Homo sapiens: one gene and its partner. The protein of the gene in region 1 purifies or fractionates together with the protein of each later gene. This does not show direct contact. Each region holds a gene or a part of one and is shown on either strand. Other genes may lie near its edges. The genes, in order: MAP3K8 and KSR2.

The links.
Region 2: the proteins of MAP3K8 (region 1) and KSR2 purify together in Homo sapiens (affinity purification with western blotting; one study listed by BioGRID). This does not show direct contact.

Annotation. Positions count from the first base shown.
Region 1 is NC_000010.11:30,437,023-30,440,842, reverse strand, and holds part of MAP3K8 (mitogen-activated protein kinase kinase kinase 8), read right to left. Parts: exon of another isoform or gene 3,709-3,820; intron 3,668-3,708; 5' UTR 3,437-3,667; intron 3,431-3,436; exon of another isoform or gene 3,222-3,430; intron 1,928-3,221; 5' UTR 1,905-1,927; coding exon 1,569-1,904; intron 1-1,568.
Region 2 is NC_000012.12:117,962,464-117,966,283, reverse strand, and holds part of KSR2 (kinase suppressor of Ras 2), read left to right. Parts: intron 1-3,820. UniProt on the Homo sapiens protein: Location-regulated scaffold connecting MEK to RAF. Has very low protein kinase activity and can phosphorylate MAP2K1 at several Ser and Thr residues with very low efficiency (in vitro).

The DNA of each region.
Region 1 (3,820 bases):
AATACTCATTTTTATAGAAGGAGCAGGATTTTAAAAAAAATTTAATTCCCATTTTAACAAATAAATACGTTAAAAATGAGAGAAATACACAAACAATTATATTTCTCGGTATAGACATATATATAACTTTGAACCCGAGTTCTCCAACTATCCTTTATTTGGGAAAATCAGATATGGCTTCTAGTTCAAATGATTATTTCTCATTTATAAAAGGAAGAAATATTCTGAAGGTAAAGTACTTAGTCGACTATTAAATAGAGCTTGATAGAGCCAGACCAAAGCAGTCACACAACAATGCAAAATATTATCTTGCTCCATTGTGAGCTATGGTTGAGTATGACTGGCTTCTGACAAAACAATTCACTACATACCTGACCTAAATTACTCTGTTGTTTTTAATTAAATGAATGTGGTATGCAAAAAAGCAAAATAATTAAGTACTTTTTCTGGACTCCGCACTCATTCAGCACCGACTTTCCCCCAACATTAGCCATTTTGCCATTTAGATACACCAAAAGAAAGGGCGTCACTTTCATCAATAAGCATGTTTTGCAAGCTACCACCTACTCCTTTGCAAATTATTCTTTTTAAAAATATTAGGTTACCTTTAGCCAGCACCTACGTTCACCTCTGACATACTAAAAGCCTGACAGAATCCCAGGCACACCTAAACACATCACCTGATCTACTATTATGGCAACAAAATGTTGCCACAATATTTTGCATGATTTGCATACTTGCGATGATTAAGCAAATATATCACTTGCCATTCATACTTTGCCAATGAAAGAGAGTGAATCTGTGGATAGCTATTTACTGCCTACATACTACATTTTTGCAAGAAATGAATTAATAACATTTCAAGATGTGACAAGAAAGGAACAAATAATTCAGCCTTCAAGATTAATTAGTGACAAAGTGTTTATTCCCCTCTCAGACGAAGGAGTCTCATTAAGCCTTTCTTTTCTGCATAACTGATGAATAAACTTTTTAGTGAACTGTTAAATTAAAATACATTCTTCTTTGTTGTTGTTGAGACAGAGTCTCACTCAGTCACACAGGCTGGAGTGCAGTGGTGTGATCTCGGCTCATCACAACCTCCACCTCCCAGGTTCAAGGGATTCTCGTGCCTCAGCCTCCCAGGTAGCTGGAATTACAGGCACCCGCCACCATGCCAGGCTAATTTTGTATTTTTAGTAGAGACGGGGTTTCACCATGTTGGCCAGACTGGTCTCTAATTGCTGACCTCAAGTGATCCACCCACCTCGGCCTCTCCAAGTGCGCGGATTACAGGCGTGAGCCCCTGCACCCGGCCAAAATACATTCTTCTTAATTACCTATTTGTAGAAATACTACTAAAATATGATCAAGAATCTTTAAATAGAAATTTTAATGAAGACTTTTTTTTTTGCATCTTTAACATGGAAGTACTTCTTACTGATGATTACATTTTTTAAAATCATGCCTGCCAGCCCATCTAAGCCAAATTCAAACACCACTCTGCATTAAATGAAGCTGCAGTAGGAAAGCTGAGCACATAGCACCCAACTGATCGGAAAGAAACGTACCATGTTTAATAAAATTCCAGATTCCTGTGGTCGTTGTCCATAAAAATGCTTTGCAGTGTTGGATATATGGTTTGCAAAAGCAAGCAAATCCTCCACAGTTCCATATCTGACTGATGACAACCATGGTACCTCTTGGCCACTAAGCAGCAGAGACTTAGAACGCTCATCGTTTTGATTACTGTCTTGACACATGGTCATTAGACTGGGTTCATAAACTGCTGGCTCTTCACTTGCATAAAGATTTTCCATAATGTCTATTACATCAGACACATTTAAATGTTTAATTAATAAATCAATCTCTTCTTTATTGTCACTTCCAGTGCTCATGTACTCCATTACTGTTGCTCTTTCTGGAGAGTCTAGGAAAGAAAACACAAATATTTAGTTTACGATATTTGTATTTGCATTCAAGACCCATGGGAAACTGACATACAAGGATTGGCAACAGGATTTTATATGCTTTTGTTCAGAAAACGAGGGTTCTGTGTCAACTGTGTGTATGAATTCAAGTTGACAGTGCAGAGTTGAAAGGGACCTAAGATAACCTTTAGTCCAGCTCACTTTGCAGAGGGAAACCTGAGATCCAGAGAGCTTACTCTTACTCACAGAGTCAGTGGTATCAGCTACAGGCACTGAAAACAAACTTTCACTAAACATACACACGAATCAAGAGCAGCTCAGAAATCTTTGAAGACCTTAGGCTACCGGCTCTTTAGGGCTTCCAACCTTACACAACCCAGCTATTCCCCCGAAGTGGCACCCTCCCTGCAAGAATCGCTATGGCTTTTTTATGCCTCTGGTGACTTTAAAGAAAAATAACCTCTTCACTAAATGCAGGAGCTAACTTGGCAAATAAAACTCAGGCCCTGAAAGCCAGAAGCTGGAAAAATGGATTTCAATCTACACAAATTTGATGGCAATAGGTCAAGTTTCAGGAATGATTCTTATGCAAATGAGTTAAACAGCTAATTGGAAGGATGACAGGAAACCTTGTTCTCCCAGTGATGAGTATGAGAAAGATGATGATACATTTAACCTATGATTCAGCTGTCCTCCCTTAGGACCAGAATTCTTTAATAGTGCAAAGCAAACATCTTGAGGGTCCCAGAAGATTAATATCTAAATAAATGGCCTTCTAGAAGCTGTGAGTAGTAGAAAGAAGCCAGGAAAGTCAAATTTATCATAAGCAAGTCCAAGTGACTATATTAACCAAAATTGCATTTCAGCTCTTATATACAAATCAGCTGCCACACTTGGAGATCTGTAGATGAGAAAAAGAAAGTAAAGCAAGGGTAAAAACTGACGTTGTTACTCAGGATTTTAGAACAACTCTGTTCTGAAGGAGAAAAGACAAAAGGCCCTAAGAGATCTAAGAGAATTTCAAGGCACATTGGTTTACTTAAATCACCGATTGCACTCCCAAAAGCATAGCCTCTTTCTGAAAGGTATTTCAAGTTCTGAGAAGCACAAGCCTTTAACACACAGGACACTCAGGGCTAAAGCCACGCACGTCTGATCAATCTGGAGCTTCATTTCAAAGCTCCAGGAAATGCTCCACTGCAGAGCCACCTGCACGCATGACCCAGCCATCTGCCTCTCAGTGAATTTCATTTGACAAAAGAACCATGCAATTTAGTGTCATCATTCACTTACTTGATGGTCATTTTCTGACGTATGAATTGTGTCTGAGGAAAGCAGTTTAGCATCCTGCAATCCAACATTCCTCTGGTCTCAGACTGCTTGGAGTCAAATCTCATTGCCTCCCCCCACACTCCCATTTACTGCTTGCATGACGTTGAGCAAGTAACGTAACCTCTCTCGACCTCAATTTTCCCCATCTGTAAAATGGAAGTAATAACAGCACCTACCTCATGAGGTGGTCGTGAGGATTAACAGAGTTCAAGCTCATAAAGTGCTCAGTGCAGTGTCAGGGGCATGGTAAATAAGCTGTGTCATTTTTAGCTGCTTTGTATGCATGAGTGAGAAAAGTACTGAGTCAGACTCCTGGCTTTGCAGATACTGCGTTAGCTTCCTTTCTTATCTGCAAACAAGATGTGGCTACCTATTCCCCTGGCTTCTTCGCGGTAAGAAGATTGCATCTAAAACAAGACATAAAGAGAGAGAAAAAAAAGGCAGAAACCTATGAAATGCTTTCATGGCTGTTATCACCACCGTGAAATCTAGAGTGAGGGGGCAGCTTCCCCTCCTGAGATCTTGTACATCTTCGAGGGAGATTGTGATTCAGGTTCTTG
Region 2 (3,820 bases), on another chromosome or scaffold:
CCTCTGAATCAGGAGTCCCAAATGCTAGTTTGTGTATTCCTGTGTAAGTTTCTTCGAAGTTTTCTTTTTTTTTGTTTCAAACATGCTCCATCCTCTGATAGCTTCCTGGATGGGGATGTGCCGCAGTGGGCATTGCCTTCTTTCTGCCTAGTGGTTTTCCTTTTAAACTGGGGGGATGGAGGCACTGGTAGGATGGCTATGGGGGAGTTGCAGTTGTAGGAAATGCATCTGTTTTCAGTTCCCTTGTCCCAGTATGCTACAGAGCATGCAACCACTTTCATCCATCTTGCCCAGGGAATGCTCTTGAGCAATTATTCCAATTTGTATTTCCCAGATTTGCAGGGTTAGGGAGGGCCCCTGCAGAGGGGCTGGTAACTTAGGGTCCAGCCAAGTCCAGCCAACGCTAACATTTGGGTCCACGGAATTTTCTAATTTTGTATATCAAAACCATATGAGGGTGCTTGTTAAAATGCAGATTCTTAGCCTCTAACCCTAGAGATTCTAGTTTAGCTGGGATTAGCAAGAGGGTCAAGGAATCTGCGTTTAATAAACAGTCCAGGTATTTCTGATACATGTTTTCAAATGGACACTTTGAGATGCTAAACCATTAGGAGAAAGATGTGATATTTCAGCTCTTTAATGGTGAAAACTCACTGCTTGCTAACACTAATGCAAGTAATAAATTGAATAGATGATCCCTGAACAGTGCTGTGATAATGAACAGCACTTAATAGCATGTATACACTTCTGTAGAAACAAAAATATGCAAGGTGGACTTGGCCTTCAGGAAGCATACTTCATGATATAATAATGTGTATGTGAAATAATGATAAAGTCTAAGTGGTAAATAATATGGGGGACAATGTGTGAGCCCATTAGGCATGTGTTCAGCTGCATGAAATGGAAAACCCAATCCTAGCAGTAAGGCAAATAATGGTTTCTCTTCATGTAACAAGAATTCTGGAGACATATAGCTGCTTCAGTTGGCTCAGTAGGTTAGTAATACCAGGGCTGATGTCTTTGGGAATTCTCATGGCTTTTCTCTTATGGTTGCAAGATGGTTCCTGCAGCTTCAGCGATTACATCTGAGTTCAAGGTAGGAAAGAGGAGGACCTGGTGAGTGTGAAGGAATAAAGGGTTCCCCAGGACATCTCTTCCTCCTCACCTTGCAGATGATTTGATTATATCTTCTTGGCCAGAACTGAGTCCTAGCTGCAAGGGAGCCCGGGAAGTGGGGAAGTGGGACCACCACCAGGATCGGCTTAGATGGATCATGATCCATTGCCTGAAATGACATGTTGCCACTCCATGCAAAATCAGGGCTCTGCTAGTGTGGAAGGAGGCATAGGTAGATATTAAGTAAGTGGACAGCCAGCGATGGCAGCCATGGCACATAGTCAGAAGATATTTTGGTGGAAAAGAAAGTTCATGAACGTTGAGTCAGACTGATATAGTTGTAAATTCTAGCTTGTCTTTTTACTTTATCTTGGGCTAGTGATTTAAGTTTTCTGATTTATAGTTTTAAGTTTTTGGCAAAACAGCAATAATTAAATAATATTCCCTACTTCAGAGGATGGTTATAAGGATTGAAAGAGATAACGTTTTCAAGGGTCTAGCACTATCTGGAACAGAGTGGCTGCAGGTGCTAAATGAATGACAGCTGTGATGATGATAATGATTGGCATTACATGGTGTTGACTAGATGGCATGGAAGGGAGCAGTTCAGATTGGACAGAGAGAAGGAGGAGCTTGAGTAGCATTTCCAAAGTATGTTCTGTAGAACCCTAAATCTGTGGGATGTTAGCGTTTTTAATTCTTTCAACAAATGCTGACATCCAGGCACTGTACTTAATGCTGGTAGTCAATAAGTGTTCTGTGGACAAAACAAATTCTGTGGTTAATAAGTTTGGGAAGGGTTGAGTTAAGCAAAGGGAAACAGGCATCTTTACTGCAGGACTTTTCTCAGAGCCTTTAATATGCTACCTATGTGTATTAGGCCTCCAAGAGAGGATAGAACGGAGTCTCGCTCTTGTCACCCAGGCTGGAGTGCAGTGGCGCAATCTCAGCTCACTCTGCCTCCTGGGTTCCAGTGATTCTCTTGCCTCAGCCTCCCAAATAGCTGGGATTACAGATGCCCGCCACCATGCCCTGGTAATTTTTGTGTTTTTAGTAGAGACGAGCTTTTGCCATGATGGCCAGTCTGGTCTTGAACTCCTGACCTCAGATGATCTGCCCGCCTCGGCCTCCCAAAGTGCAGGCGTGAGCCACTGCACCCGGCCCAAGGATTTCTCCTGGGATTTTTGTTCCATAGGATACACCTGGGAAAACATTTGGCAAAGCAGGGAAACCTTCTTGGTTGGGGAGATGGGGATTTGGAGTGAAGGATGAGGAGGGTTTAGATTGCAGCAAAAGGGGAGAGCATGCTGGACAAGAACAACAAACCAGATGAAGGTATTTGAATGCCTTCATGGGGCAGCCTAGAGACCATTTTGCCCAGAATGGAGGGTACCTGGTAGCCTGTCATAGGAAATGAATTTAGGCCACTAACTTCTGGGATCCAACTAAAGATTAGAGAGTCAGACCAACAACGTTTCATCCCTTTGTGGAAGGAGATAGAAGTCTTCAAAGGTTTTGGAATGCATACAATAGAAAAGTATAAGCTTTTTTGTTTTGTTTTTTTTGAGGCAGGGTCTCACTCTGTAACTCAGGCTGGAGTGCAGTGGCACGATCATGGCTTACTGCAGCCTTGACCTCCAGGGCTCAAGAGATCCTCCTGCCTCAGCCTCTTGAGTAGCTGGGACTACAGGTATGCACCACCACGCTTGGCTAATTTTTTGTATTTTTTAAATAGAGACAAGGTATTGCTATGTTGCTCCAGCTGATCTTGAACTCCTGGGCTCAAGTGATTCGCCTGCCTTGGATGGCAGCCTACGGCAGGGGCTGGCAAACTTTTTCTGGAAAGGGACAGATAGTAAAGAGTTTAGGCTTTGTGGACCCTGCAATTTTTATCAAAGCTACTCGACTCTGTGCTGTAGCATGTAGCAGCCATGGGCAGTACATACATGAATGGGTGGGGCAGTTTTCTTTTTATTTTGAGACAGGGTCTCGCTCCGTTGCTCAGGCTGGAGTGCAGTGGCGTGATCTCGGCTCATTGCAACCTCCGCTTCCCAGTTTCAAGTGATTCTCCTGTCTCGGCCTCCTGAGTAGCTGGGATTACAAGCCTGCACCATCACGCCTGGCTAATTTTTGTATTTTTAGTAGAGACAGGGTTTCAGACCAGCCTATTGGCCAGGCTGGTCTCAAACTCCCGACCTCCAGTGATCCGCCCACCTCAGCCTCCCAAAGTGCTGGGATTATAGGCGTGAGCCATCAAGCCGGGCCTGGTGGGGCAGTTTTCTAATAAAACTTTATTTGTGGACCCTGAAACTTGAAATTGATATACTTTTTGCATGTCATGAATATTTTTCTTTTGATTTTTTTTTTGATGTTTATAGTTGTACAAACTGTAGTTTCTGGGCCTTACAAAAACAGGTGATGGTGGCCAGGCACAGTGGCTCACGCCTGTAATCCCAGCACTTTGGGAGGCTGAGGTGAGTGGATCACTTGAGGTCAGGAGTTTGAGACCAGCCTGGCCAACATGGCGAAACCCCGTCTCTACTAAAAATACAAAAATTAGTGGGGCATGGCAGCGGGTACCTGTAATCCCAACTACTCGGGAGGCTAAGGCAGGAGAATCACTTGAACCTGGGAGGTGGAGGTTGCAGTGAACCAAGATGGCACCATTGCACTCCAGCCTGGGTGACAGAGGGAGACTACATCT